6 linked regions of the Homo sapiens genome follow. The protein of the gene in region 4 purifies or fractionates together with the protein of the main gene of each other region. This does not show direct contact. Each region holds a gene or a part of one and is shown on either strand. Other genes may lie near its edges.

Region 1 (5,339 bases), on a different chromosome or scaffold from region 4:
TTAACCAGTCACCTGTTGAAAAGCATCTGGGCTGATTCTAGTGTTTGTTTATTCAAATAAAACTGCTGTGGACATTCAGGTACAGGTTTTCATGTGAATACAAAACTTCATTTTTCTGGAATAAATACCTATGAATGCAATTGCTGACTCATATGGTAGTAGTATATTTGGTTTTGTAAGAAACTACTAAACTCTTTTCCAGAGTGCTGTACCATTGCATGTACCCACCCCCATGCTCCAGCAATGTAAATGATCCAGTTTCTAGCCAGTCCTTCGTATAAGTTCTTTGTATCGTATATTGTAATCCAATCCTTTGGATTCCCAGGGCATTGCACAAGGCCTGGTATAGCCCACTTATAACATAAATGTATACTGCTTTAAAATATATTTGTGTGAAGTTTAAAACTGGCAAAGAGAAAGAGTGAGGATAAGTGTTTGTACCTTAGGTTAGGGATGTGACAGGGAGCAGTTTTACTATCTAGACCTACCCATTGATTTGGTGCTATAAGGAACTACAAACAGAGGTGAATGGATGCATTTAAACTGCTAGGTGCAAAGCTGAAATGTTTTTAAAGAAGGGCTAATGCAATAACATTTAAGTTCTTTGCAATAAATTTTTACTTTCATTACATTTAAGCATATGATGTTAATACATTCAAGCATGTAATGTTAATACAATAAAATAATCTGAGATATGCCAAGTGTTATGGAAACACTGAGGGAGAGACCAAGAAAGACGACTCTCCTGCTCTGTTCTCTCTTGTTCTAGGTCCAACTTCTTCCTGTTTCCCCTTTTTGCCTCCCATTTGGCCTGTTTCTTCATTTCTATGCTATGCACCTTTTTTCATCTCAGTTTAACTTTAGTTTCTCTTTCTTCCGGCTGATTTCCTTTAACCAAATGTTCTTTTCCCCTGGAAGTTCAGCTCTCTCTCCTGTGACTTTCTCTCAATCTGTCTCTCTGATGAATCCTCATGGATTCATCCTAATTTAGGTCTTAGACTACACTATTTTGGATGAAATTCTGTTTTCTTAGGGAACTGAAGTAGGAAGAGCTGTTGGGCAATCCCATCTGAAAGTCCTGTTGACTATTTTACTTGAAGCTTTTTTTCTCTCCATAATTCTCTCTTGACACAAGAACACTTCCAAGTACTCTCATTTTTTTTTTCTCTAAAGGCTTCTGTTTCCCAATAACCACAGAAACTTTGTGCTTTCACAGTAATTATCACATTCTACCTGTGTTATATCACTTTTTGTCTTTTTGCACCTTTGAGGTGATGAACTTTTAGAGAAGTTTCATTAATTATTCATATCCACAAGTGCCTTGTACAGTACTGGCCATATTGAATAATTACTGAATGAATTTGCTTGTTATTAACATGTTATTGACTTCAGTTTTAGCATGTCTTTAAGATTATAAATGTTTCTGCCCAAACCATTTTCTATTATATTTTTGAAATTTATGGGCATCAAGTGGATAATTAAGTAGATAATTAAGTGAATAAGGTGAATCTGTAAACCCTACAAAATATAGTAGTTAAGAGGACAACTTGGATAAAAATGTATAGAATTAAAGAATTGTGTTCAAATCTCCCTTGCGGTCATCTGACAAAGTCAAACTTAACTGCTGTCTACAGTAAGATATGGCATTATTTCACATTTTAATTTACTCAAATGGCAAATGTGGCATTTCAAACACTTTCATTCATGCTAGATTTAAGTTCTGCATGGAAAGTCCTCTGTAAGGACATCATTATTCTATCTGGCATCATTCATTCTTGAACATGGGTTATAAAAGTTTCAGTCTTTTCTGGCAGAAAATACAAATAGATGACTGTGTATTACAACATTATAATAGGAATAACAGCAATGCATCAAGAAGCCAAAATGTGTTCAGAACTCAGGCTGAGCCTTCTCTGCCTCCTCAAGCTAACACAAATTTTTGACTCCAAATGTTATAATTAAAAGTCTTATCTTCATCTACGTATTTTTCATTTCTCATTTCTCAAATGCCTGTTCCAGGTGTTTGCCAATGTTTAGACAGTCACTACTCAATGTTTTCTATTATTTTGTTTCTTAAAATCTTCAAATGTTGGAAATTACAGTGTTGGCTTTCAGGGACTCAAAAATGTGTAAGTGTGTGTGGTTTTGTGTGTTTTCCTCCTAAGCTCAGGGATAAAACTAAACAAACACGAGTACTGGGCAGGCTAGCTAGTTTTAAAAGAAGGCAAAAAGGCTCAGAGAATCGGCATGTTGTTAGACAGGGTGTGCCCACTGGCACAAGACCTCCTGGGGAGAGGCTGGACATTCAGGATGTTTATGAGTAAAAGTAGAAGGTGGAAAAAGAACACACAAGGCCCAGTGTCCTGACAGCCTGGCACGAACGCAGCTCAAAATAATTACTACTGCTGAAGGAGCCGTTTCTGTTCCATCTTGTGTCCTTGCTAAAATAAATAATAAATAATAACAATAAAGCAGTCTACATAAATATATGAAATACCCATATAGAGCTATTTATTTGTATATAAAATATCTGTATTTTTTTCTTACTTCTATCTGAGGACGCCAGCTTCCGAATGAAGCGGAGTTTTTGTCTACCAGACCCACAAGCAGCATGGTGCGGGTAGAATCCTGTTTTAAAGAAGCCCAGAACAATAATTCCCGCAATCATAGAGAAAATAAGCCAGTGCCCGAAAGCAACAAATAAAAATAATGTGTGAAGAAAAAGAAAAGGACTTCTTCCTAGCGGCGGCAGATGCCCCCAGACTTTATGACTTCCTCTCCATCCCGACAGGGAAAGCAGGACTGAGTTTGTCGGAAGGTGAGCGGGGCTTGGCCAGAGACGGTGTGCGCTGAGGCAGCGGCCCTGGACAAGAGTGGCGTTTGGATACTTGACGGTGAAAGGGGAAGAAGCCAGTCACCAGCTCCAAAGTCCAGGAACTACACCTGGCAAAGGTCAAAGCCTGCGAGGTAAGTCAATTGCGGACAACGCCTGAGCCCCGCGTTTGCAGCCGGCGAGTTGACTTCGGTAGGGAGAAAGTGGCCGGCCCCAAAGGGCAGCCCCGTGGGGGCGCGAGTGGCTAGCTCAGTTTGCGGTCCCCTTTACTCCCACGCCTGCAAATCTCAGACCCCTACGCCCTCCCCTCGCCGGCCTTGGTGCGTCGGGGTCCCGCCGCCCGCCGTCCCTTACCGAGCCAGAAGTGCAGGTGGTAGGTGAAGCCTCGGCTCGTCTTGGCCGTGTGCAGCACCAGGTAGGCATCCCCGACGTAGAAGTCGCCGTGAGCGCTCTGGGGCACGGGCACCAGCTCCAGCTTCTCAATCCTCCAGACCTGCAGCCCCGCCTGCTTGCCCGCCCGGGCGAACTCTTCGTGGTATAGCTCCCGCGCCATGGCTCCTGCACGCGATGCTCCGGGGGACGCGTGATATCGCTGATCTTGGACTAAACCGAGAGCAGCAGGAGGAACCTTATTCGCCGCCACTTTATAGTGTTTGCCATCCGGGGAGGCGGCGCCCTGAAACGGGAGGGGCTAAGTGCCCAGGCGCGAGTTGACAGAGGAGACGATCGCTTCCCACGGGGAGCGCAGCGCTGGCTTCCAAGCTCCCACGCCTTGCCCCAGGCCAGGAGCGGAATCGGCGTCCCAGAAGTCTTGAGATTCAGAGGGAGTTTATAGTAACTCGTGCCAATGCCTCCTCCAAGGAAAGACATTTTCTCTAGCAATAGACGAAGAACATTAACGGTTAAAACTGCTTGGCACTCCTTTGTGCATACCCATCACTACCGTCCTGCATATTTCCCCTTCTCTCGCTAATCCTCTTATTTCTGGATCTCAGTTGTGCCTGGCAGGAGGGGTGAGGTGAGGAAAGAGCGCGCCAGCCCTGCAGAGTTGAGTCAGCGTTTACTCGGGTGGAGCAATACCTGTTCTTTCTGGCCCTCTAGAATAATTCTTAGAACAAGGCTTCCTCTGCTAATAGCAACACCTGCCGTTAGGCAGCAGAGGAGTGTGCCACATTAGCATGCTGGAATAATTTTAATACATCCTTCTTTAAAAAATGGGCTTTTTGAGTAACAAGCATCCTAATGATCAATTCTGTCATTTCATTGGGCAATCTCTGCATTCCTGACGACCAAAGTTTCTGTCTCGATCTTCCAGTTTGAAAATACCATGAAAAACAGCATGTCAGATTTCTTGGACAGGAAGAAAACCTGGAAGAATGGCAGTATTACCCCAGGTGACAGAGCTCTGTAAATCTCAGAGTTCAGGAGCTGTGGTTGAGCTCTCTTAACACCTGCTTCCTTTGGCCAAGAAAGATGAAAACAACAACAAAAACCCAGCAGCCGCCGTCCTGAGATGTTCTCTGCAGGGCTGTTTGTGGCTGTAATTTTATGCTTGGCCGGACTTCTGGGTTACCTGTTACCTAGCTTCAAGGTGATAATTTTCTTTGTTTTACCTACAGGTTTTGCTTTTGCAGCATGGCTAAAACACTATGGAATACAGATGGAAATTTTACTCTTGATTTGGCATTCATTTAACAAGCTGGTATAGCAAAGGATTCTGTTACTGAAAAAGGCAAATCACTCAGGATGTATAGAGTAAGAAAGCTGAATTTCATGCATGTAAAATTGTTTTCATTCAATTTCTCAAATTACATGAATCCCTGGAAGGTCAATAATAATGCAAAATTAGATTTTTTTCCTTAATTAAATTATGTTTTTAATAGGTTATTACATGACCATGGTAAAAAAATTAAAAGTACAAAATGTGTGCAATAAAAAATTATCTCCATTTCACCCTGCCACCCAGTTGCTTTCCCCAAAGGCAATTACGTTACCAGTTTCTTATGTATTTTTCCAGGCACTCAAATTTTGTCAACAAGAATATAGGTAATGTAGTTATTTTAAATTTTTAACAGAAAATGTAACATATAACCTTTTCGAATCCCCCCCCGTGTGTGTGTGTGTGTGTGTGTGTGTGTGTGTGTGTGTGTGTGTGTCTGTGTATCAACACACAGTACTCATAGAGCTACCGGTTTTTACTGACCATATGGTATTCCACTTTATAAACATACTAATTTATTTTGTCTATCTCAGTTCATAGTGTAGGGGCCAAGGGAAAACTTCCCCTCTACCCTCTGAAGTTTCACTGAAAAATCAAGTCACAAAAGGCAGATTAACAGGACAAATGGCATACAAATTTATCAGCGGGCATGGGGGAGAATCACAGAGTGATTGGCCAATATCCCAATGAGGTACAGAGGGTTGTACCTCCTTATTAGAGGAAAGGCAGATGGGTGATGTATGGGTGATTTGGGGGGTTAGAAAATGATTTTTAGGGGAATTCAAT
Region 2 (5,017 bases), on a different chromosome or scaffold from region 4:
AAACAAAAACAAAAACAAACAAACAAAAAACCTAAACATGAAAGGCTAAGGTGGGAAGATAACATAGGAAGATAACTTTATAACCCAGGAACAGGAAAGAGTTCTTAAACAGGACACAGAGTGCTGCCAATAAGGGAAAAGATTGCCAGACTGTATTTAAGAACACCTGTTTATCAAAATACGTTAATAAGGTGAAAAGGCAAAAGAGTGGAATATAACTGAGGATACACACACCATTGAATCTATTCAATACACAGGACTATCCAGAAGAAAAATGGACAATAAATCTGAACAATTCACAAAACAAATCCAACTGGCCAATAAATATGAAGTGATACTCAACACATTAGGATATAGGGAAATGCAAGTTTGAACCTCAATGAGATACCATTACTCACATATCAGAATTTCTAAAGTGTTTCAATTTTTGTAACTTCAAGTGTTGTTGAAGATGGGAAACTGCACTGTACAATGGTACTATAACTTTGGAAGAGTTCAGGCTTATCTCTGCCGAAGTTGAGGTTAGGCTTTCTCTATCACCCAGCACTTCCAACAGCAGGCTGTGCGCGTGGACAGGAGGATTCTGGCAAGGAATGTTCGCAGCAGCACTATTTGTAATAGCTAAAACCTGGAAACAACCTAAATGCCCATTAATAGTCAAATGGATTTTTTTTTAAACTGTGGCATATTCATACAGTGAAAAACTACAGCTGCATAAAACCACAGATTAACAACAGATTTGAACAAATGAAGACATACTACAGAGGGAAGAAAAAAAACAAGGACATGATCACCGTAAGGGTCAAGAAAGTGATCATCTTTAGAAGGGAGTTGGGACCCAGGAGGGACAGGTTGGCTTCTGGGCTGTAGGCAATGTTCTCTGAGTGACTGGTTGCACAGGTGTTCACGTTGTAAAAAGTCATGAAGCTGCACATTTATTTTGTTTACACATACAACATAACTTATGTTGTATGTTCTTATATGTTCGATTCACAACAAAAATGTTTTAAAATAATCTGAAATATTAGATCACTGCTTATTTTTAAATGTATGGCATATACCCCTTGAAAAGAGCGTTCTCATTGTGAGGACTTTAGAGAAATTCATTTTCTTGAGAAACAAAATTTGGTTAATGAGTGTTTCTCATTAATAATCTATACATCAGGATTAAGAGCTGATTTTATTAAGGTCTACCCTACCAAAAGCTTTCCCATAATAATCCAAAATAAGACGTTTTCCTATTTCTATATAAATTCCTTTGCATGAGACATTTGTTTATTAAAACACTTAAAATTGTATTTGGAATAAACCACCTAAAGTGGTTTGTTCTGAAAAAAAAAAAAAAAAAAAAAAGCCTTTTAAGAACTTGGGTCTTTTTGTTGTGGTCATTTAAAATCAGTATTTTAGACACTCCACTCGCTCTCAGTGTAGAGAGAATGTATTCGATTGCGTGTTGGAACTACGTGTAGACAAAACGATCGCGGTTAAAGCTTGCGGCTCAGAGCCCACCTGGCCGCGCTGCTGGGAAACGGACGGAGCGGCGCTTCAATCAGAGGTGAAGGTGCAGCAGCTGCTTAGCTGGCTTTGGTCCATCACTTCTGGGGACTTCAGATTCTCAAAATCTTAAATTCTAAACCCCACAGGAATGCAAATCTGCCCACCTTTTCCCACATAACTCTACCGTCGCTCAAACTCTTCCTGGTACCAGCGGGGAAGCGGAGGAGACCCAGGCAGGGGCCCGCGCTCGCTCGGCTGCAGCCCGACTCCCCTGCGCTCCCGGCCCAGGGCCGCGTCCCGACGGGGAAGTGCGCTGCGCCCGGGCGCCCCCGAGTGGAGGGGGGGGGAAGGAGGGAGCCGGCGGCGGGCGGGGCGGGGCGCGGTGACAGCCGAGCCGGGCCCGCCCCTGGCTCCCACCCCCGAGCCCACAGCTCCCGCCCGCCCGCGGCCGCCCGGGAGCTCGTCCAGCCCCGCGCTGCGCTCGCCCGCCCGCTGCCCGCCGGAGCACCGCGGCCTCCGCCCGCGTCCATCTGCCCGCCGCCCGCGCCTGTTCCGCAGCCCGCGTCCGCGCCGGCCCCACAGCTCTGCGTCCGGGTAAGCCCCCACCCCGCCTGGGGTCCCCCTCGCGCTCGCGGGGCTCCCTGCCCCCGCTCCGGGGCCTCAGCCATATCTGGGCAAAATATTCAGCTGTCGCCGCCGCCGCCAAGAGGGACTGAGCGTGGCTCCCTCTATAAATAGCTGCCGCCTCGGGTTGCCTCTGGGGCTAGGGAGCCCGGGTCTCGGGGTTCCGAGCCCAGCGCTCCCGTCCCCGCCTCCCCGCGCGCGCAGCCCTGGCCAGGGCGCCCTCCGCTCTGGACCTCCGCACCGCGTCTGTGAACGCGAGAAGGACCCGGGGTTCTGGAGGAGACGGCGCCCCGGGCTGGGGTCCTGGCGGAGGGGCGCCCCCGCCACCCGCAGGACTCCAGCGCGGCGGGGCTCTGAGCCCGCGGGGTGCTCAGCTGGGTACAGGTGCCAGCCGGAGCTGGGCTCGGGGGCGCGGCCTCTTCTCCGCCTGCAAGAGTCTGGGGGTGGGAGTGGGGGAGTAAAGGCTCGACTGGACGTGGATCCCAGGTTCGCGCTGAGAGTGTTTGGGGCAGGTGAAGTTTCCCAAACTGGGAGAGACAAGGTTTAAAGCACCACGACACGCGCTACGCGGCCAAGTGGAGCTGGAAAGAGCTTGGAGGCGGGAGCCCCAGGTTGTCGCCGGCTCTCGGCATGGCCTTGGCAATCCCCCTCTTGTTTCTGGATCTCAGTCTCCCATTTGTAGGGGCGAGGTTTGGTAGCCGCGATGGAGCTGGGAGCCCAAGCCCTGAGAGCTGCAGGGCGCGCTCTTGGCCGCCTGCGCTCCCCACACCTGTTCACCCTCTCCGGGCCTGGGACGCTGGGGTCCCAGCCGCGCACATGCGGAGACGCTGCAGAAATCGGAGACTGACTGCCCCAGACTCGATCGTATCCTGGGACTCACTAAGGCCGTCGGATATCCTAAGCCGTACAACCCTAGGAAGTGCACTTTTGGGGTGCCTATGGGCATCTCTCTGCTCCGTAGCCGGCAAAGCAGCCTGTGAGCCACGCAGCTTCAGATGCGATGAGCTGGGCAGGGGCAGTGGTTCCAGTACAGCCGCTCCCTGGCCACAGTTTCCCGGTCTATATCGGGCCTATGATGCGTCCTCCAACCTGCGCAGCGCCGCCCCCTCCTACACCCTTCACCCACCGCTACTATTACAGACCCTGTCTCCAGCCCTCGCCCTATGCCCTCAGACTCTCGGAGACGACCTGGCCCAAGCTCCTCCGTGTCTGAATCGCAGAACCAGACCCTGAACCCAGGTGCTGGGCCCTCAGCGTGAGAACCCCTAGGGCCCCCACCCCATCTTTCTTCCAGAGGTGACTGCCATTTTGTCCTCTGTGCAGGGCCGCAGAGCCCCCTGCTCAAGGTCACACAGGGCCGGTCACGCCAGAAGTTCTGCAGTCTCCCAGCCTTTCCCATCTCTTTCCGCACCCTTCCCACTGCTCAGGCAGGTCCGGGAGCTCTGGGAGCACCCGATCAATGCCCCCTCTTCTTGAATCTGCTGCTGTTCTGGACTTTACCTTGTCTGGACAATAGCGCCCTCATCCTGAAGTTTCCTTTTTGCTTCTACTTTACTTTCTGTTATGTGTTTTTTTCTAAAGCCATCTCAAAGACTTACAGAAAAAAGAATTAACGGGAAATGGAGTCAGATAATAAAGTTTCCATCAGTTAGAGCCACACAACCAACAGGCAGAGTGAAAACAAGAATACTGTCACTTTGGTGTATTATCTTTAATGAGCTAGTCTTACAAACCCGTGTTTTAGAGAGTCATTGACCCTTGAGTTTCTCCCAGCCTAAGATGAAAGCCAGTGTCCTCTAAAAATAGCCTCCGCCCCACCTTATCAGGGTCTCACACCTTCTCCCTCCTTCAGGGTAGGGCGTTTTCTTGCAGCTCAGCAAAAACAGAAAACACAAAGTAGGTGTGGCAGCTCTGAGCAATGGGAGGTGGACTGGCCTGGAGGTTAGGATATCTGGCTCCAGCCCCAACTCTGCCACCCACTCAGAGGAACCTTGAGCAATGAGGGGGCAGACAAGGTGGTCTCTAGTGGACCTGGAGTGGAGAGGGCTTAGAGTCTTCCTTGGAAGCCTTTCTAGCATGACCCATCCTGTAAGGAGGAGCTGGGGAAGGAGTGAGAGACAGTGGCTTTCCCAGGTGCCAAGGGAGGACAGAGGTGGGCAGTGTCACTTGCTGTGGAGAGACAGGAGTAGGGGGATGAGGACTGGGAAAAGACCATCAGGATTGGCAGGGATCATGAGTGACTTAGACCAGGGTATTGCAGCAGGCTCAAAAAATGAGATCTGCCAGTGACCCAGCCTGTCTGAGCCTCGTTTTCTCCTCATACAATGGAGACAACAATAGCCCCATTTCATAGGGGCTGCTTGTGAGAATTAAGTGAGATGATTCAGGGCAAGCCCTCAGCCCAGAGCCTGATATTGCAATGATAGTATTCGTTGTGGTGAGGGGGAAAGGCAGGAGCTAACAGGAGCTGAAGAAGTTCTCCACTTCTTCAGGCTGTAGGCTGAAGAAGGCTCTCAACAGAGCCAGCAACTCTTTCTAAAAGCTTGGATGAGAAAGGAAGGGAGAGGGAAGGTAGCAGGAACTGAGGACAAGGAACAGAAGGGAGGCAGGCATTCTAGGATAAAGAGTATGGCAAGTAGTGAGAAGAACCCAGGAGAGGGGAGAGAGTTAAAGGGGAATCTAAAAGGTGTGCCCATAATGAGGATTGGGGACCTTCCTTAGTGACTTGCAGAATGTCACAGACTCTGCAGGTGGCCTTCATCCCCTGGAATGAGCAAAAAAAGGTAAAACGAAGCAGATCCTGGCTCAGACCCCTATGTCTCTGGCAGACCAGTATCTGCGATGGAGGATGGTGATGGGCTGTGAAGAGTGTTTTGACCCTGCTCTGGGGCCTCAT
Region 3 (4,539 bases), on a different chromosome or scaffold from region 4:
TTTTTTTTTTTTTTGAGGCAGAGTCTCACACTCACACCCAGGCTGGAGTGCAGTGGCGCAATCTCGGCTCACTGCAAGCTCCACCTCCCGGGTTCATGCCATTCTCCTGCCTCAGCCTCCTGAGTAGCTGGGACTACAGGTGCCCGCCACCACGCCCGGATAATTTTTTTTGTATTTTTAGTAGAGACAGGGTTTCACAGTGTTAGCCAGGATGGTCTCGATCTCCTGACCTCGTGATCTGCCTGTTTCGGCCTCCCAAAGTGCTGGGATTACAGGCATGAGCCACCGTGCCCGGCCAAAAATTTGTATTTTTAAGAAAACATGTTATATTTTGATTGCCAGCCTTTTTTTCTTAGTGATACATAAAATACTGGAGAGTTTTACAATCAATGGTATCTTAGAGTTTATAAGATTCTATTTGAATTTTTTTTTTTTTTTAAAGACAGGGTCTCATTCTGTTGCCCAGGCTGGCTTGATCATAGCTAACTGCAGCCTCCAATTCCTGGGCTCAAATGATCTTCCTGCTTCAGTCCCTCGAGTAGCTGGGTCTACAGGTGTGTATCACCATGCCCAGCTAATTAAATTTTTTTTTCTTTTTTGCAGAGATGAGGTCTTACTATATTGCCCAGGCTGGTCTTGAATTCCTGGGCTCAAGCAATCCTCCTGCCTCAGCCTCCCAAAGTGCTGGAATTACAGGCATGAGCCACAGTGCCCAGCCTCTATTTGGATTTCTATTGCTGGATTCTCTAACTAAACCTAAACTCCCAATTTTTCTCTAAACAGAGTTGCCGTCTAGATTAATCTACCAGTCAGACACTCCCAACACTCAGACCAGCTTCAGACTCTCCCACTTTTTTTTCTGAGTCCAGCCGGTCAGCACCTCCTGCAGGTCCTTATTGCACAACATTTTTCACACCACCCCTTCTTTTCACTCTTGTTTCAGCCTTTTGTTCCTTCATACCTGCACTACTCTGATTGCATCTTGAAAGATTTCTGTTTTTCCCTGTAAGCTACCCAGAACACTATAATTGGATCATTTTTCTCAACACTGCTAACAAGCCACTTCCCTGGTTAAGAACTTACAATGGCTCCCTCTTGTCCACAGAATGAAATCCAGACAATCTAGCTCCAAAGCTCCCATGATTTGGCTTTAACCTGCACTTCCTGTTTTCTCTCTCGTTACTTTCCTGGGGAGCCCACTTCGGCTAAAATGGCTTATTTGCTCTCTGTGGTAGGCAGAATCATGGCCACCTAAATACGTCCTCCTCCTATTCCTCACATCTATATGTTACTTTACATGGCAAAACAAATGAGTTGTGATTAGATTAAGGATTAAGGATTTTTTTTTCTTTTTTTGAGACAGAGTTTTGCTGTTGTTGCCCAGGCTGGAGTGCAATGGCACGACCTCGGCTCACTGCAACCTCTACCTCCCGGGTTCAAGCAATTCTCCTGCCTCAGCCTCCAGAGTAGCTGCGATTACAGGCATGCACCACCATACCCAGCTAATTTTTTGTATTTTTAGTAGAGATGGGGTTTCACCATGTTGCCCAGGCTGGTCTTGAGCACCTGATCTCAAGTGATCCACTCACTTCGGCCTCCCAAAGTGCTGAGATTATAGGCGTGAGCCACCACGCCCAGCCCAGATTAAGGATTTAAAAATAGAAAGACCATTTTGGATGATCTGGGTGTGCCAATGTAATCCAAAGGACTCTTAAAAGATGGAAGAGGAAGGCAGAAGAGTCAGTGTCATGCAATTTTTTTGCTTTGAAGATGGTGGAAGGGGCCATGAGCCAAGGGATGTGGGCAGCCTCTGGAGGCTGGGAAGGGCAAGGACATGGATTCTCCCCTAGGGCCTTCAGAAAGGAATACAGTCCTGTGACACCTTGATTTTAGCCCAGTGACATGTGTTTCAGACTTCTAACTTCCACAAAAGTAAGAATAAGTTTGTATTGTTTTAAGCCACTGGATTTATGCTAATTTGTTACAGCAGCAATAGGGAATGAACACACCCTCTTACCCAAATACTTCCATTTTCCAGGATGATTGTTCTGGCTGTCTTCTGTTTGCACCTCCACATCCACTCCCCTGCTGCTCTGTGCTCCAGGAAGATGATCTATTTAGACTGTATCAATGGGTTCCCTTTCTGTCTGGCTTCTGTTTGGCCCACAGGGGGCACTAGCAGGAAACTGGAGAGCAGGGGAGGGGGAGATTGGGTCCAGAAGGTCACATCTCCCAAGAGGCAGCCCTCTCCATACAGCTGCCTGCCCCTGGCTGGCCTCAGGCCTTGGGTGGTAAGGGTTCCTTGTGCAGCTGGTGCCAGAGTTCTGCCTTGTTGGATTCCCTAAATCCTCCCCCCATCTTTGTAAATAGCCTCTTTATTAAATTTTTCTCAAGTTACTCGAGTGTATCCCGTTTCTTGTTGGGATGCTGGCTGATACATTAATATTACTTGGAATGCTGTTCTCTATTCTCATGGCCTATCTATGCGCTCTGCTCTTGAGACCTGGCTCAGATCCCAGTTCTGCAGGACCACAGAATGTCAGAGCTGAAAGAGTCCTTAAAGATTGCTCAATCCAGCAACATAGATGGTTTTTCTTCTATTTCTCTGACCATTTCTTTTTGGTCTCTTTTAGCAATTCTTCTTCCTCCACCTTAAATACTGGCATTCTTCAAGGTCTCATCTTATAAATTCTTCTATTTCCATACTACATATTCTCTCTGGAGGAACTCATCTGCCTCCAAAATTTTAATTATAATATATATCCAGGAGATTCCAAAATCTGTATCTTCATCCTAGACTTTTTTCCTGAGGGTTAGGCCCCTATATTTCCATCTGCCTAATTCACATCTCTCCTTGGCTGCCTCAGACACCTCAAATATGTCAGAAGTGCTCTCATCATCTTTCCTCCTCCAGAATCTCCCATTTCAGGAAATTGGCCGAAAAACCAGGGAGCCATCCTTAACATCTTCTCTCTCTCGTCTCTTTTCCAGCCATCAATCACCAAATCCTGTCCTTACCTAAACGTGTTGAGAATCCACCCACTTCACTCATCTGCATTGTCCACATTCAACCCTATCCCTTCCTGATCCATTCGCCATACAAATGGCCAAAGTGAGCACAGAGTTAAACAACTCTTCTCTAGTTACTTAAAATCCTCCAGTGGCTTCTGCTGCCTTGAGGATAAGGTTCAAATTCAGTCTGTCTTCTGTCATCTTCGTCAGCCTCATCCTGTGCTGCACTCCCCATCTCCTCCTGGCTCCAGCCTCCTGGCCCAATTCCAATGCCTGGATCATGCCTTATGTTGTTCTCTCTGCTCAGAACACTCTCACCCCACTCCCCTCTGGCTGACTGCTATCCTACTCATCCCCTGGTCTCATGCAAGCTTCACTTCTTCAGGGAAGCCTTGTTTGGACCTGGAGACAAGGTCTGGGTCACTCCCCATCTCCATGCTACCCCTTTAATCACATCTGTTCTTGGCTTTATTACAACTACTTGCTTTATCTCTATTTTCCTTGCTAATCTCTGTGAGGGAGGGGGACTGTATGAGTTTTATTCACTGATAAAATCCTGACTCCCAGCACAGTTCTTGATCTGAAGTAGGTATCCAATAAATATTGTGTAACAAATGTCATGTGAAAGAAATGAGTTCAAATGAACCCGCAGGTCCAGAGCTCATTCCACTCTATCCACTGCTTCCTCTCCCTGTGATGGAGCTTTCTGAGATCATCTAAGCCCACAGAAGTTGCCCCTTCCTCTAAATTTGTATGCCTACATCACCAATTTGACATATCTTGCTATCTTTTCATGTATGTTGCATGTATGGTTCTCTCTCCAGCTACACTACAAACTCCCAGAAAATAAGTGCCATGTCATACTTCAGTAGGAAAATACATTAATTAATTAAAATAACATGTTCATACTATGTAACAGTAGCTGTTAAAACAAATTGCCTATGTTGTGTCAATGTACCAGGGGATCTCAAAGTCAGAGGAGAAAAAAAAAACTTGCATCCTCCTGGAGCACAACTTTGATCTGAAGATTTGGGGAAAAGCTAGTTATTATTATTATTATTATTATTATTAGAAATAGGGTCTCACTCTGTTCCCCAGGCTGGAGTGCAATGATGTGATCATAGCTCACTGCAGCCTTGTACTCCTGAGCTTAAGTGAACCTCTTGCCTCAGTATTCCCCCCACCTCCTTTGACCCCAGCTGAGACTACAGGTATGTCCCACTATACTCAGCTAGTTTTTAAATTTTTTGTAGAGACAGGGTCTCGCTACATTGCCCAGGCTGTATTTTTAAAAAGCAAATATAGAAATACTGTGGAGAAGAATGCAGTATTCTCATAGCTTTTAAAGTCAAATCAAAGCTTTTCCAGCTCATGGCTGGTCTGCTTTTGCCCCCACCAAGGCTGCCCAAGGGCTCCCATTTGTCTTCCGTCCTGTTAGCAATGCTGCCGTGGGAAGTTAGCAAGCACTGCTACAGCCTCCCCTCCAGTGGTGTGTCTGTCCCATGGCAAGCATTTAACATGCAATAT
Region 4 (5,260 bases):
GAGGTGGCTTCCCCAACTGTCCCCAGCTCTGCCCTCTTTCCTGAGCAGTCGTGGGCACCGCTGGGGGCTCTCAGGGCCACCTGCCCCAGCGTGGAGCATTGCACATCCTCCAGGTGGTGCCTGGCCTTGGCTCGGAGGGCAGGTGGGCGGGAGGGCTGCCCAAGGGCCTGGCTGCCTGGGGGGTTCCATCCCATGGGCTCCTGCTGCTCAGATGAAGACTTCCAGGGGGCTGCCGGGGGCCTCCAGCCCCTTCCTCCTTCAGAATCTGGAGCTCTGAGGGTCTCCAGGGACAGATGGCCAGAAGGAACCCTGCCAGAGCAGCCCCTCAGGTCATCCCTGCCCTTCCCAACTCAGCTCAGCACACAGAGAAGCGAGGGAGGCTCCGATGGGCCAGGCGGGGCTCCAGGACTGGCCCTGTCCATGGCAGGTGCTGCCAGAGCCCTGGGCAGCGGCCTCCCACCGCGGGCTGGGCAGGCCTTTGAAGGTCTGCAGAGGAGCAGGGCGGTTGGGTGATGCTAGGAGGGGCATGTGCCAGGGCTCTGACACCTTCCAAAACTGGGAAGAGCTGGGAAAGCTGGTGGGATGGGAAGTGAGTTCAACCAGGCCAGGAGGGCCTGGCATGGCCACCCAGGGGCATGGAGTTTGCCTGTAGCTGGTGAATGGTTCTTTCCGTGGGAGACACGGCCTGGTCGCTCATGGGGAACAGACTGGGGGTAGGGTCATCCTGATGGGGGCCTGGGCTACACAGGGGCAGACTGAGAGGGCAGCCAGGGTGTCTGTGGGACAGGGTGGCGGCAGGCAGACTTGCCTTCTAGGTGTGGACATGGGGTGGGCACGCCTGGGCGGGTGGGCACCCCCGGGCAGCTGGGCCAAGGACAGGCACTGCAGCCAAAAATGCAGTGTGACCCCAGGGAGGGTACACCCCTGCAGAGCTGGGCTCCAACATCTGGATATGTCGAACCCAAGGTCTGAGAGGGCAACCTGACCCTCCCCAGCTGTGGACCAGGACGCCCCGTCCTCATCGCCTCAAGGCCTCCAAGGCCAGATAGTTCCTCAGTGTGGGGAGAGCCTTGCTCTTGGGGGCTATAGAGGGCAGGCATCCCCCAGCGTCACCAGAGAGTCCCCCCAGAGCCACAAGGCAGCTCTGTGAAATCCTCGTCCCTGCCCCCAAGGGACAAGGACAAGCTAGTGACTGTCTGCTGGACAGCGGGGCGAGACAGGAGTGCCCCCGAGTGGAGGAACCGCAGTCCAGCCTGGCTGGTAGCCGAAGCGGAGCCTGGACCCCGCCCAGGGTCAGGGGACCTTCTTTGGCCTGAGGCCTCGTGGGAGAGGACAGTCCTGTCCTGGGGGCATCTGAGAGACCACATCATGGAGGGGTGGTTCTGAGGAATCTGGCCCCGTCCCGGGCAGTCTGAGGGGAGGGGCCACATCATGCGACAGTCTGAGGGGCTGGACCCACTTGTCCAGCTGGAGGGGCTTGGCCTGCCCTGGACCTAGTGTTGAGGGCATGTCCTGAGACCGTCACAGGCTGGCGTACCTGGCACTCTGTGACATGCACGGGGGGCTGTCTTGTCCACTGCTCCAGCCCCAGCTGAGCCTGCCCAGCCTGGGCCTTCCTGGGGACTCCCGTGTGGGGGCTTCCCAGGCCATACATCCCTGCCTGGGTGCAGGGGACTTCTGTCCCATCCTAGACAGGAAACTCCCCGGTTCCCTTAGTCACCTTGTGAAATGAGAAGCCTACCCCACTGGGGCTCTCAGTTTCATTCTGAAAGGTCAGGCTTGGCTGCGCACCCCATGCAATTCGCGGGGGCAGGGGATGTCCAAGGAGGGGGTCCAGGCTTTGCAGAGCCCAGGAGAACCGCCGCTCTCCAGCTGGAGCGCCTGACAGCCCCGGCACAGGTGCAGCCCTGGCCTCCCAGGATCTGCACCAAGATGCCCCAGGATCATCTGTGCCTTGGCCATGCCCGCTCCAACCCCCCCTCCCCGCTCCTGGCCCGGGGGATCCAGGGCATTTGAGACAGCTGGGAGGGGGTGGCCAAGGATGAGGCCAAGGAGGAAGGCGGGGGTGCCCCAGCCCAGAGGCTCATGTCCTGCCCTTCTATGGGCATGAGGTGACCAGGAGCAGCACCTAGTCCAGGGCTGGGGGTGGTGCTGACAGGAGGGCCCGTTTTGCAGCTGGGACACAGCTGTTGTGCACCCAGAAGCCTGTCTCCCTGCACACGGCCTGGGCAGGGCATCCTCCCACCTCTCCCTGGGGACAGGCACGGACGTCCCGACCCAGCCCTCAGCCAGCCCCGGCCTCTGCTTAGCCTCCACTCCACTCACGGCACTCGGGGTCCCTTCAGTGGCCCCCCGCACCTGTACCCAAGTGGGATTTGGCAGCAAGAAGTCAGAGATGCAGACCCCTCACACATACCAGACCCACAGCAATGTGACGGCCACCAAGGACACAGACACAGGACAGTGACTGCAGCCACCAACAGCACAGGAGCTTTGTGTGAAGGCCGGGAGGTGGTCCCTGCACCGCCCCGGGTCGGGTAGACCGGGACCCTCTGCTGTCAGCACCAAGGCAGAGACTGGTAGCAGCCCTGGCTGCAGTTTTGGGGTATGTGAGCGTCACCCTGGGCCTCCTCTCAGGTCCGTCCTGTGTGGCTGCGGGCATCACACTCTTTCTGCAACCTGGGCCCCAGCGCCTTCCCTTCCGCACACCAGGCCACAGCCCCCGCTGACCTGCTCCTAGGCCGGCCTCTATCCCCAGCACCGGATCCCCATCCCCTGACCATTAGCACGTCGCCCCTCTGCCCCTCAAAGCCCTACCTGTCCCTGCACCGCACGCCCTGAGCCCTCCCATCTCTTCTGGGACCTGCACCGGGGGCAACTCGGGTTCCCCTGGCGAGGCTCAGCTGTGATGCCTGGATGCCTGCTGGCCGGCAGCTCCCCTCTGCCAGGGAGCCCAGTTACTAAGCCGCTAGCCCTCTCCACCCACCCCAGCACAGGGCTGGATGCCCATTGGTACCACAGAGTACAGCTGCCCGCTAGGAGGCCTTTGGCAGCGGGGTTTTTCTGCCCAGCTCTGGCAGTCCTACACACAACCTCTGCCATGCCCCCTCATGTCCCCACTCCAACCAACACACGGTGCCTGGCACCCAGCACAGGCACCTGCCAGAATCCTTGGCCTTGTCCTTTACCGCAGGTCAAGGGCAGCTTTGGGTGCCCTGCCCTGAGGCCTGCTGGGCCCCAAGCCTGGCGGCCTCCAGACCCTCAAGGCAGGATAGCCCCTCTCAGATAGTCCTGTGGGCAGGTGGCCAGGCCCGGGCCAGTTCCACCCATCCCAGAACAGCTGCTCCCCAGCCCCCACCTTGCCTCTTCCCAAGCTAACAGGGCCCACAGTCCCCAGCTCCTCCCTGGCAGTCCAGGACACGTCTTGGGGTCTCCTCGCTTCAGGCATCCACCATGGGCTTAGGATCCCACGCGCCTCCCCCAGTGAGTCCAGGGCACAGAGGCAGGCGGAAGAGACCTCCACCCTTGTTGTGAGAGGGGGGTCCCAGCAAGACTTCCTGCCACCTGTCTGTGGGTCCCCAGTTTCCCCATCGGACATCCAAGTTCTCCCATTGGGGGCCCCAGATTCCCCATCAGGCACCTCAGTTCTCCACCCTCCATGCAGCTCAAGGACTATGCACCCGTGGACACGGCACAGGGCGCCGGGCGTCGCCGCAGACCCTTACCCCAGCAACTCTTCCCGCTCCTCGGCACCCGGGTCACTCGAAGCCTCCGCCATCAGCCTGTAGTCTGGGCCCCACAGGGTGCTGGCAGATCCCTGGAGTGGGTGTACGTGCTGTGGCTTTCAGTGCTTTCTGGGGCGGCTTCTGAGCCCCCACCCCCAGCCGAGTTTCACTTCCCCCTTCCGGCTGCAGGTTGAGGTTTGGAACCTGTCTCGGCTTGGGTCAGGGTGTTGTTTTTTAATCTGTTGCTACAAGAGGAGAGGAAGAAAAAAAAAAAAACCCAAACCACCCCTCAGGAAGCGTTAAGCAAGTTACAGGGGCCTGGGGTGACAGAGACGGGGTGCGAGGGCCAAGATGGCCGCAGGCAGCTCTTCATGGCTCGGGGAGGGGGACCCATGTTACCCCTGGTCCCCGCTAGTAGCTCTGGCCATCAGGTCCACCTGTGAGTGGCCAGTTCTCCTGCAGCATCAGGGACAAACACGTCTGTGATCCCATAAGCACCACGTGAGCGTTTTAGCTTCTTTGGGTGAAATCTACCCAGAGGCCGGCTCTCCTACAGGTGCTCATGGAACTTGGTGGAGTCTTTTCTCGAAGCCTGGGGTCATAGCCTTGAGCACATCAAACAGCTGTGGGTCCCAGGTGGCTTTGGGGGCTGTGCCCGGGATGCCCCTGCGTTCTACCCGTCGGGTGCCTTGTTCTGTCTTGGACTGCCTTGCTGATGCCGAGCTGTCGGGCATCCGCCTCGTCCCCCCGCTGCCCCTTGCTCTCCGTGCTCTGGTCGCTGGAGTTGACCACCGAGTGGTTCGTGTCCCCAGGCTCTAAAGGCAGTGCCTCAGGGACCCTCCCAAGAGGCATAGGCCAGCCCGAGGGGAGGGATGGAGGCTGTTTCCAGCCCTCACTGTCCCCAGCTTCTGGGAGTGACCACGCAGTGGCTCCAGGGTCAGGAGGAGGGATGCATGACTGCAGGAGCCAGACCCCAAAAGCTGAGGCAGGGGAGGACTTAAGCTGGGCCAGAGTAGGGCAGCCACAGAGGTGGCGAAGGCTTCCCTGCTGGAAACCTCAGCGCAGGAGAATGGGAGAAGGGAGCCCTGGCCAGCGGCTGGGCCTGAGAAATCCAACCAGCAAGGACTTACAGGGGGTCCCAAGGCAAAGAGGGGCTGGAGAGAGGCCAGGGGTTGGGAGGGCCCTGGGCCCAGAGTGTTGACCCATCAGGGTGGGGCCGAACCGGAGGCCGCCTCCTTGGGACTCAGCGAGCCCCCCACCCACCAAACACACCACAAAGACCAGCAGAGGCTTTCAGAGCCCCACGAGTGGAGGCACCAGAGGGATCCGTGGCCCAGACGATGGGCAGGGCTAAAACCAGATCAGGCCCAGCGCCATGGAGATGAACAGGCCATGCCTGTGTCTTCCCCACGCCTCCTCCCTGGGGGTCCCTAAGGGCCCCCAAGTCCCCCTTGCAGAGTGGCACATGGCAGAGCCCTGCGGTTCTCACCATGCGGCCTCCATCCTGAGGCCATCCTGAAACGGCTCCCCTCATG
Region 5 (4,539 bases), on a different chromosome or scaffold from region 4:
TGTGCTGCATTAGAAGTATTTGACTTTCTAAGGGGATTCTTATCAACCTAACTCAATCTCTAGTTGGGAGAATTTGGGGCAGCATAAGACAAGAATGAAAGAAGTGCAGACAATGTGGGGGAAAATATTTTTGAGCAATGGAAGCTGGCTAGCAGCACAGCCAGCCCACGCATGCTTAAAGTGAGTGGAGAGAGAAGAAAAGAAGGCCAGGATGGCTCAGGCCACAGGGCAGGGGGAGGAAGGACTGTTTCCAAATGAAAGACTATCTCTACTTCAACAAGGGTCTGCTGACATTCTACCTCTTCCATAGGGCATTTTTTACCTACTCCCAATGCCATTTTTTCTTTTTCTGAATTCCCTCATAATATAGTACATACATATAGACAGCTCTTAATTATATTGTCATCAGTTCTCTTTTCTAAAAATATGATATATTGATTCCTTCTCTGTAGGAAGCCCTTAAAAGAATGGATTGTCTTGGGAGGCCAAGGCGGGTGAATCATGAGGTCAGGAGTTTGAGACCAGCCTGGCCAACATGGTGAAATCCCATCTCTACTAAAAATACAAAAATGAGCTGGATGTGGTGGCAGGTGCCTGTAATCCCAGCTACTCGGGAGGCTGAGGCAGGAGAATTGCTTGAACCCAGGAGGCGGAAGTTGCAGTCAGCTGAGATCACGCCACTGCACTTCAGCCCAGGTGATAGTGTGAGACTGTCTCAAAAAAAAAAAAAAAAAGAATTGTCTGTGCTATTCATTTGAGCTCAATCATATTTCACTTTATATTGATCCATTTATTAAGGTATCTCTTACTCCCAATTAAGCTATCCCTCAAAGAGTAACTTTATTAAAAGTAACCCCCACCAAAGTACCCAACCCAGCACTAAGCACACTGTAAGAATTCAAGTAGTTGGCCGGGTACAGTGACCCACGCCTGTAATCCCAGCACTTTGGGAGGACAAAGCGGGCAGATCACCTGAGGTCAGGAGTTCGAGACCAGCCTGGCCAACATGGTGAAACCCTGTCGCTACTAAAAATGCAAAAATCAGCTGGGCATGGTGGCAGGCGCCTGTAATCCCAGCTACTCAGGAGGCTGAGGTAGGAGAACTGCTTGAACCCAGGAGATGGAGGTTGCAGTGAGCCGAGAGATCATGCCACTGCACTCCAGCCTGGGCGACAGAGCAAGACTCCGTCTCAAAAAAAAAAAAAAAAAAAAAAAAAGAATTCAAGTAGTTGCTAGCTTTAATACCAGGAGATTATATGAAAAACATATAGGGTCTATAGATAATGAGGAAATTGGTTATAGATTTAAAAAAAAAACAAAAAAAAAACTCTAGACTTAAAGTCTATTACCTAGCAATAGTGCCTAGATGTTACAAACCTTCACGGAGGCTGAGAACAGTGACATGCAGAATAAAATAGTTTAGAAATCTCTTAAATATGAATATATTTCATTTTCCAAAGAGTCTAAAACGATTTCTAGAAATTAAATAGTGATACCTGGAGGGAATGTGATTATGAGAATGCATAGGGTGATAGTTACAGAGTGAATTGGGAATAGCAAGGGCATTTTTGGTTCACAGGGCTGGACCAGGGAATGGAGCAGAGACAGAGGGGTACCCACTGAGTATCTACTATGCTTCAGCCACCACCATAGGTATTTGACACATATTTTAAATGTGCTATAATTTCACAAGAACACATCATCTTTATAGATGAAAAAACTGAGGCTCAAAGAAGCTAAGTCACTTGTCCAAAGTCACACAGGTGGTAGTAAAGGAACAAAGACAAGATTAAGGTCCAGATTTGTCTATTTCGTGTTCTTGCACTCTCTGCTAGGTAATCTGAATTCCCTAGTTTGCGCCATTGCAAACTTTCATCCTTGCCCCCCAAACAAAATCAAAACAAACAAAAAAGACAAAACTTTGTCTTAGTGAGGGAGGAAGAAATGACAAGGAAGAGATGAAAATATCTAGCTCTCTAGCAGTTATGGGGTCAGGGTAGGGAGGTGAGGCCATTCGGGAAGGATTCAGGAAGAGTTAGCATTAGTTGAGTGAGAATTATATACCAGGCACTTGCTGAACATGTGATTTCATCTCAATAACCCTAAAAGGCGATCATTTTACATATAAGGAAATGAGGCTTAGGGAAGCCTATGGTAAGAGAAGTATGCTCAGCTGAAGCTGAGATTTGAACTTGGTCATTTACGTCTCAGAGCCTGTGCTCTTTCCATGATTCCCTATTGGAAGCATACTTTTGATTCTCTTTTCCCACAAATGCTCAAAACTAAAGTTTGGAAAACATTGTTCTATTCAAGAGATCTTGGCTGGGTTCGGTGGCTCATGCCTGTAATCTCAAAACTTTGGGAGGCTGAGGCGGGCGGATCACTTGAGCTCAGGAGTTTGAGACCAGCCTGACCAACATAGCAAAACCCCATCTCTACTAAAAATACAAAAAAAAAAAAAAATTAGCTGGGAGTGGTGGTACGTGCCTGTAATCCCAGCCACTAGGGAGGCTGAGGCATGAGAATCGCTTGAACCTGGGATGCAGAGGATGCAGTGAGCCAAGATCGCACTACCGCACTCCAGCCTGGGCAACAGAGCGAGGCCCTGTCTCAAAAAAAAAAAGAGATCTAGCCAGTAATTACATTGCAGTTGAACTGAAAGAAGCCTGCTTCCTACAGGAAATAAAACTGTCATCCAAATCAAGGCATCTAATAAATGATAAAGGAGAGACATACAATGCATATTTTAAAATGCTGTTACCCTCTGACCCCATTATGAATATAGTTGGCATTTTTATAGGCCATGTCGGTGAGGCTCATGAACAGGTAATCTACCCAGCGGAGCTGGAGCCACTGCTGACAGTAAAGTTCCCCGACTTAGCAGTGGCTGGGCAATAATACAATGACCCAAACCAGTTCCAGTGGCAGCACCACAAATGGGTACTAGAGAATTATCATTAAATGAGGTCACTCCTAGAGATAGTGTCCATTTTGCTTAGCTGACTCACACTTAGGTGAGAATGTCAACGAACAGCTCTCCACATAGAGCTAATATGGAGATCACTAAATAAACACATTTCTAGCTATATCAGATTCAACATTTTTGTCTCAAAGTTAAGCAAAAAGCCAAAGTGTATCTCTTTAATGTAAAAGTAGTTCCCAAATAAAAAAAAAAAATTAGCCAGGCTTGGTGGTGTGCGCCTGTAGTCCCAGCTACTCAGGAGGCTGAAGTAGGAGGGTTGCTTGAGCTGGGGAAGTCAAGGCTGCAGTGAATCATGATTGTGCCATTGCACTCCAGCCTGGGTGACAGAGTGAGACCTCGTCTAAAAAAAAGAAAAAAGAAAAGTAGATCCCATCAGAACCTGCAATGAAATGAACCAGTAGCAACTTCTAAGTGCTTGATTCCACCCACATCTGGCTCTATTTGGGAACTAAATTCAGCAGAAGTCTCCAGGGTCAAGAAATGACCCTGAATAAAAATAGTCTCGGAAATCTGTCACGGAGTAGGAAAGGAAACCAGGCGGCAGGGTGATTCACTCCAAATGGCAGCTCCAAAACCCAAATTCCCATTTTTGTCCCAATATGAAGCCAATGTACAAAACAGGCAGAGAGCAAACTGTCCTTTTCCAAAGGCCTTCAAAAGAGGTTGCCAAAGAATTTCACATGGAAGCCAAAAAGATTTAGTGTGCCATTCACCTCTCCTATAAATCTAACTAGAGCTATTTCTAACTAGAGCCCTGAACCAATGGCAGGTTTACATTTACTTGAAGACCACCCAGGGTATCTATGGGTTTTTTTCCCTGGCAAGCAAGAGACACCCTTTGTCCCACCAAATTTTCCAAATGACCAAACAGCCACAGAGAAAGAATACAGGGGTGGTGTGGTGAGTATGTGTGTGTCTGTTTCCTGCCTTTCTTCTAATCTATAACTCACTGCCCCAACACACAGTTAAGTTCTATTAAAGTACAGTATTTTGAGAAGATTGTCTGCTAAAAAAAAAAAAAAAGAAAGAAAAAAAAGAAATAATTCCATTGGTTGAAGACCAATCAGCCAACATTTGAGTACTCAGTTAATTCATTTTAAGATGTATTAAACATGGGGAAGGGCAAATTCTGTAGCATCACAGAAAACGCAAAAGGATTAAAGGTAGGTTTGCTTCACAGCCACTCACTTGCACCTTCCCCTTCCAAAGCCTTGCATTTTATTCTGCATTCATGATTTACATTCTTTTTCTTAAAGGTGGTTGCCCCCAAGCATTATGAGGTTCAAAGCACCAGAAAACCTGGATCTACCTCTGAACAGGCTATCTGCCTTTGAGGATTCCATAGGTTGGTGAGGAATATGAATATGATAAATTCTCTGTTATGAATAAATGTCCATGTATCCTGAGAGCACATGAGAATGTGACATTGACCTGTTTTGGGGGATTGGGAAAGATTTCTCACATCTGGTCTTGAAGGATGAGTAAGAGTATGGCAGGCAGGGAATGAGGGCAGAGATGAGGAAAGGAGGACATTCCAGGGGGTGAAAACAGCAAGA
Region 6 (4,539 bases), on a different chromosome or scaffold from region 4:
AGTGCCTGTTATATAAAGCATATTCAAACAGGAGAATTTGTCTGTATGCTTGCTTCAGCAACTAATTTTATTCAGCTTTTTTTTTATACATTTTTAAATTAGGGAATAACCTTCTTAATGAACATTTCCTGTGGATGACTCTTCAGAAACTACAGGCTGGAAAATACATCTTTGAGGAAACAATTTAAAAGCCTGTTAGCATTTTTATAATTTAAAACACAGTTGAATAGGAACCAAAAAAAGTTAACTTCAAGCCAAGTCCTTTTTGGGTAGTCTTATCAGTTTTCAGGGATAGTGGCACACTCACCCCACAGCAGTGAGAGAGGTGGAATAATTTAGCCTCCCACCACCCTGCAAAGTGGCAGCTCTTATGGGAGTTGGCCTTTTATATCCTGAGAGCTGTGAAACGCTGACCACCTACGTGGATTTTTCTTCCCTTATCCTCCACCCACAACATAAGCATTTAAATTTGTATTTGCAAATTGCCAGAACTTTGTAGCTCAAAATGAAGCTTATAGATTCCTTGAAGCAGCAGTTTTTCCTTGGTGCCTTTGATGAACCTGTCCTGAAAGAGTCCCCCGACAAGTCTTTAGGGAAATTGATATCTTAGTGATAAGTGTACAGTTAACCTTTTACAAAAATTAGTTTGTTTGGGAAAAAAAAAATTGCCCTGATTCTGAATGTTTGCTTTGGTTACTTCTGTCCATTTAGAGGCATATTCTAGGAGAAGAGGCTTGATTCTCCTTTCATATACAGATGCTGCTTAACTTATGATGCAGTTACACACAGATAATCCATCATATGGGTTATGAGTGATTTCTATCTTGATTGTTCCATGTGATGAGATTATTATCAAAGTCCTGCCCACCAAATGCCATGATCACCTCAAAAATATATTTGAAATAGGTTTAAGGTTTCATTTCCAACTTATATTTAGGACAGATGCAAGCGTAATGTATAAAATAAATTGAAGTCAATTTTTATGAAGTTGTCATATGTCATATGAAGTTGAAAATATCATAAGTTGAAAATGCATTTAATACACCTAACCTACTGAACACAATCACTTAGCCTAGCCTACCTTAAACATGCTCAGCACACTTACATTAGCCTACAGTTGGGCAAAATCATCTAACACAAAGCCTGTTTTATAATAAAGTGTTGGATATCTCATGTGGTTTATTGACCACTGTACTGAAAGTGAAAAACAGAATGGTTTATGAGCACCACTGTAAAGCTGAAAAACCCTAAGTCAAACCAAGTCAGAGACCATCTGTATTGCCTACTTAGAACCACAGTTACATGTTAATATTAAGTGTTCTATAGTTTTCTTCTAAAGTGATTGCCCTGGATCTGTTCTTTCCCAGAAGGCCTATTGATTTTCTTATTCTCTGCAAGAAATGAAATTTTTCTTTAGAGCAGGTGATGGTAATGATTTCAGCTCTTTTCACTGCCACATATTGTTTGAAGGCGTTAGTAAATCCTTTGTGAGCAGCTGTTAACTTTATATTAACAGATTAGAAGAAATTGCCTTTTCCTTCACATGAGGCCATGTACTTGAGTCTTAGCTGTTGTTCTTATGAGTGATTTCTGTCTTGATTGTTCCGTGTGATAAGATTATTATCAAAGTCCTGCCCACCAAATGCCATGATCACCCCAAAAGTGTATTTGAAATAGGTTTAAGGTTTCATTTCCAACTTATATTTAGGACAGATGTAAGTGTAATATATAAAATAAATTGAAATCAATTTTTATGAAGTTGTCAGCTACTCCTTAGAATCAACTGACCTGTTTCCTTTTTTTAGTGGTACTTTCATTTGAAACTATTTCTAATGTGCAGGAATTTTTTTCCTTTAGTGTTGGGCAACCATTCCAAGGGGCTTACCTGGAAATCAACAAGAACCCCAAGTATAAGAAACTCAAAGATGCCATTGAAGAAAAGATCATCATTGCTGAAGTCGTGAACAAAATTAACCGTGCTAATGGGAAGGTAAAAATGCTAACCTTGAAGACTGATAAGAAGTACCTATTAGTTGGGATAGTCACCCTGTTTTCTGAATGTAAAAATTTGCATTTCATGTTCTCAGTAGAGTTAACTATGAAGGCGGCTATTTCCCCTTACCTTTAAGCTTAGGTGGAATTTTGCTTGTTCTCTGACATTTTTATGAAATAAAACATATTATTTATGTTCTTTACTGCGTTCTTGGTTTACATAGGTATGTTTGTTGAAGGATATTGGAATTTTTGCAAATAATGCCTTAAACTCATGGACCATTTTTGAGTATTTGTGATCATTGGTTTTATACTATTTTTTATTTTGATTTAGAGTACATCTCGGATTTTCCTCTTAACAAACAATAATCTCCTTCTTGCTGACCAAAAGTCTGGACAAATCAAGTCAGAGGTTCCATTGGTGGATGTGACCAAGGTATCAATGAGCTCACAAAATGATGGCTTCTTCGCCGTCCACCTCAAAGAGGTAAAGGTTCAACAGAAGATTTCTGTGCTTAATCTCTCAGCCATTGATTTAAAAAATTTCCATATCTGATAATCCTATCGCAGTTTATATATCTGCCTTGCTAATTTGCAAATTTTGGATATTCACCCCTATGTAAAATCTCCGACTCAGTTTTTCAGTAATTGAATAAAGTTAATCACTTTTATTGGCCAGTTTACTTTACTTTTTGAGACTAATACATAGAAATATCAAGATGTTTTAAATTTTGTTTTCTCCTGTTTTTTCTTCTATGTATCAACTTAGTAAATGTCTTAATGTTCATCTCTAATCTGGGGGTTTACATTAAAGGATACAACTAAAATAAAATAACCGCCAGTTAATTTTAACCTAAATAATTTTTAGTGTTCTGTGCCTTTAGCTTAACCAGGACTCCTGGCTTGGATGCAGTGGTTACATGTAGGTTCTGGAGTTGGTCTCACTCACTTTATGATAATTTTGGCCAAGGCATTTAATTTGTGTGTGCCTACCTACTTTTTCTCATCTTTAAAATGGGGATAGTAAGAGTGCCTACTTCATAGCATTGTTGTAAGGATTAAGGATTAAATGAGACACTGGAGGAACAGGGCCTGTCACATAACACATAGTCACTGAATAAACAAAAGTTAACAAATATTGATCATATGTAGGGACATGTGTCTAGCTAATAATGTTACTCTCTGGCCAACCCTAAACTTAGAAAAATCCCCAAAGCTTCCCTTAGCCTGTTTACCCTACTTTGGATCTTAACTTAAAGGGGGCATATCAAATACTAGGACAGTGATTCTCAACCTCAGTGACACATGTAAACAGCTTGGGAACTTTAAAAATTCTGATGCCCAGGCCATACCCCTATGAAATCAAATTAGAATTTCTCAGAGGGGGCACAAGCATCATGTTTTTTTTTTTGTTTTGTTTTGTTTTTTTTTTGAATAAACCCAGATGATTCCCTTGCACAGCTAAGGCTGAGAGCCACTGCCCTAGGATATTTGTTGGAAGTGTTGTCATTAGGGTTTTAACCAAATCACTGAAAAGTTTTTTAATCAAGTCCTTCAGAAGAGTTGCGGGATAGGTCCATGCTCCTCAAACCTGAATGTGTAAACCCATACCTGGAGGTTGCGTTGTGGTTTCATATTCACTGGGGCTGTGGTAGGGCCTGAGATTCTGCTTTTCTAGCAAGCTCCAAGTGATGCACATGGTGCTTCTGCTGCATCCACCGACTTTAGGTAGAAGGGGATTAGGTAACCTTACTAAAGTGCTCTGAGCAAGTTGGAAGAAACACTGCTTTTGTCATTATTGTTTACCTTGGGAGAATGGATTCCAGGATCTGATGTTTTAAAGAGACTGTAAGTATGTTTTTAGCCAAGCCTGTAAATATTGACCTTCTAAGGTATCTTTAATTATGACCGACTCTTGGTTTGTCCTTGCAGGGCTCAGAAGCAGCTAGTAAAGGAGACTTTCTCTTCAGCAGTGATCACCTGATTGAAATGGCCACCAAGCTCTATCGCACAACTCTCAGCCAAACCAAACAGAAGCTCAATATTGAGATTTCCGATGAGTACGTTCATGTATTGTTTGAAAACCCTTTTTCTCTTTCAGCTTTTTTGTTTTAGTTCAGCTCTCGATCTCATTCATTAATACAACTACTTATTAAGTACCAGGTATGTGTCTAGTAGTTGTTCCACATGATAAATGGGCAGTGAATGACACTGACCAAGTCTCCAACCTCATGTACCTGACATCCTAGTGGAAGAGACCAGTATGTACAAATAAAATGATGAAATAGTTGATAAGATTTTGGCTAACAAGTGTTTATGGAGGAAAAAAAGGGTTAAGAGTCAGAGAGTAGGCCAGGCGCAGTGGCTCACGCCTGTAATCCCAGCACTTTGGGAGGCCGAGGCAGGCGAATCACGAGGTCAGGAGTTCGAGACCAGCCTGGCCAACATGGTGAAACCGTCTCTACTTAAAATACAAAAAAAATTAGCTGGGCGTGGTGGCGGGCGCATGTAATCCCAGCTACTCAAGAGGCTGAGGCAGGAGAATCT

What was found.
Region 1: the proteins of LSP1 (region 4) and SCIN purify together in Homo sapiens (affinity purification with mass spectrometry; one large-scale study listed by BioGRID and IntAct). This does not show direct contact.
Region 2: the proteins of LSP1 (region 4) and TMOD1 purify together in Homo sapiens (affinity purification with mass spectrometry; one large-scale study listed by BioGRID and IntAct). This does not show direct contact.
Region 3: the proteins of LSP1 (region 4) and TMOD2 purify together in Homo sapiens (affinity purification with mass spectrometry; 2 studies listed by BioGRID and IntAct, with this or other methods). This does not show direct contact.
Region 5: the proteins of LSP1 (region 4) and MYO1D purify together in Homo sapiens (affinity purification with mass spectrometry; one large-scale study listed by BioGRID and IntAct). This does not show direct contact.
Region 6: the proteins of LSP1 (region 4) and MYO1B purify together in Homo sapiens (affinity purification with mass spectrometry; one large-scale study listed by BioGRID and IntAct). This does not show direct contact.

Annotation. Positions count from the first base shown.
Region 1 is NC_000007.14:12,568,834-12,574,172, reverse strand, and holds the start of SCIN (scinderin), read right to left. Parts: upstream 3,454-5,339; 5' UTR 3,387-3,453; coding exon 3,188-3,386; exon of another isoform or gene 2,792-3,187; intron 1-2,791. UniProt on the Homo sapiens protein: Ca(2+)-dependent actin filament-severing protein that has a regulatory function in exocytosis by affecting the organization of the microfilament network underneath the plasma membrane.
Region 2 is NC_000009.12:97,499,713-97,504,729, forward strand, and holds the start of TMOD1 (tropomodulin-1), read left to right. Parts: upstream 1-1,953; 5' UTR 1,954-2,091; intron 2,092-5,017. UniProt on the Homo sapiens protein: Blocks the elongation and depolymerization of the actin filaments at the pointed end. The Tmod/TM complex contributes to the formation of the short actin protofilament, which in turn defines the geometry of the membrane skeleton.
Region 3 is NC_000015.10:51,757,624-51,762,162, reverse strand, and holds part of TMOD2 (tropomodulin-2), read right to left. Parts: intron 1-4,539. UniProt on the Homo sapiens protein: Blocks the elongation and depolymerization of the actin filaments at the pointed end. The Tmod/TM complex contributes to the formation of the short actin protofilament, which in turn defines the geometry of the membrane skeleton.
Region 4 is NC_000011.10:1,851,663-1,856,922, reverse strand, and holds the start of LSP1 (lymphocyte-specific protein 1), read right to left. Parts: upstream 3,840-5,260; 5' UTR 3,779-3,839; coding exon 3,726-3,778; intron 1-3,725. UniProt on the Homo sapiens protein: May play a role in mediating neutrophil activation and chemotaxis.
Region 5 is NC_000017.11:32,866,607-32,871,145, forward strand, and holds part of MYO1D (unconventional myosin-Id), read right to left. Parts: intron 1-4,539. UniProt on the Homo sapiens protein: Unconventional myosin that functions as actin-based motor protein with ATPase activity. Plays a role in endosomal protein trafficking, and especially in the transfer of cargo proteins from early to recycling endosomes.
Region 6 is NC_000002.12:191,412,191-191,416,729, forward strand, and holds part of MYO1B (unconventional myosin-Ib), read left to right. Parts: intron 1-1,857; coding exon 1,858-1,990; intron 1,991-2,326; coding exon 2,327-2,479; intron 2,480-3,924; coding exon 3,925-4,052; intron 4,053-4,539. UniProt on the Homo sapiens protein: Motor protein that may participate in process critical to neuronal development and function such as cell migration, neurite outgrowth and vesicular transport.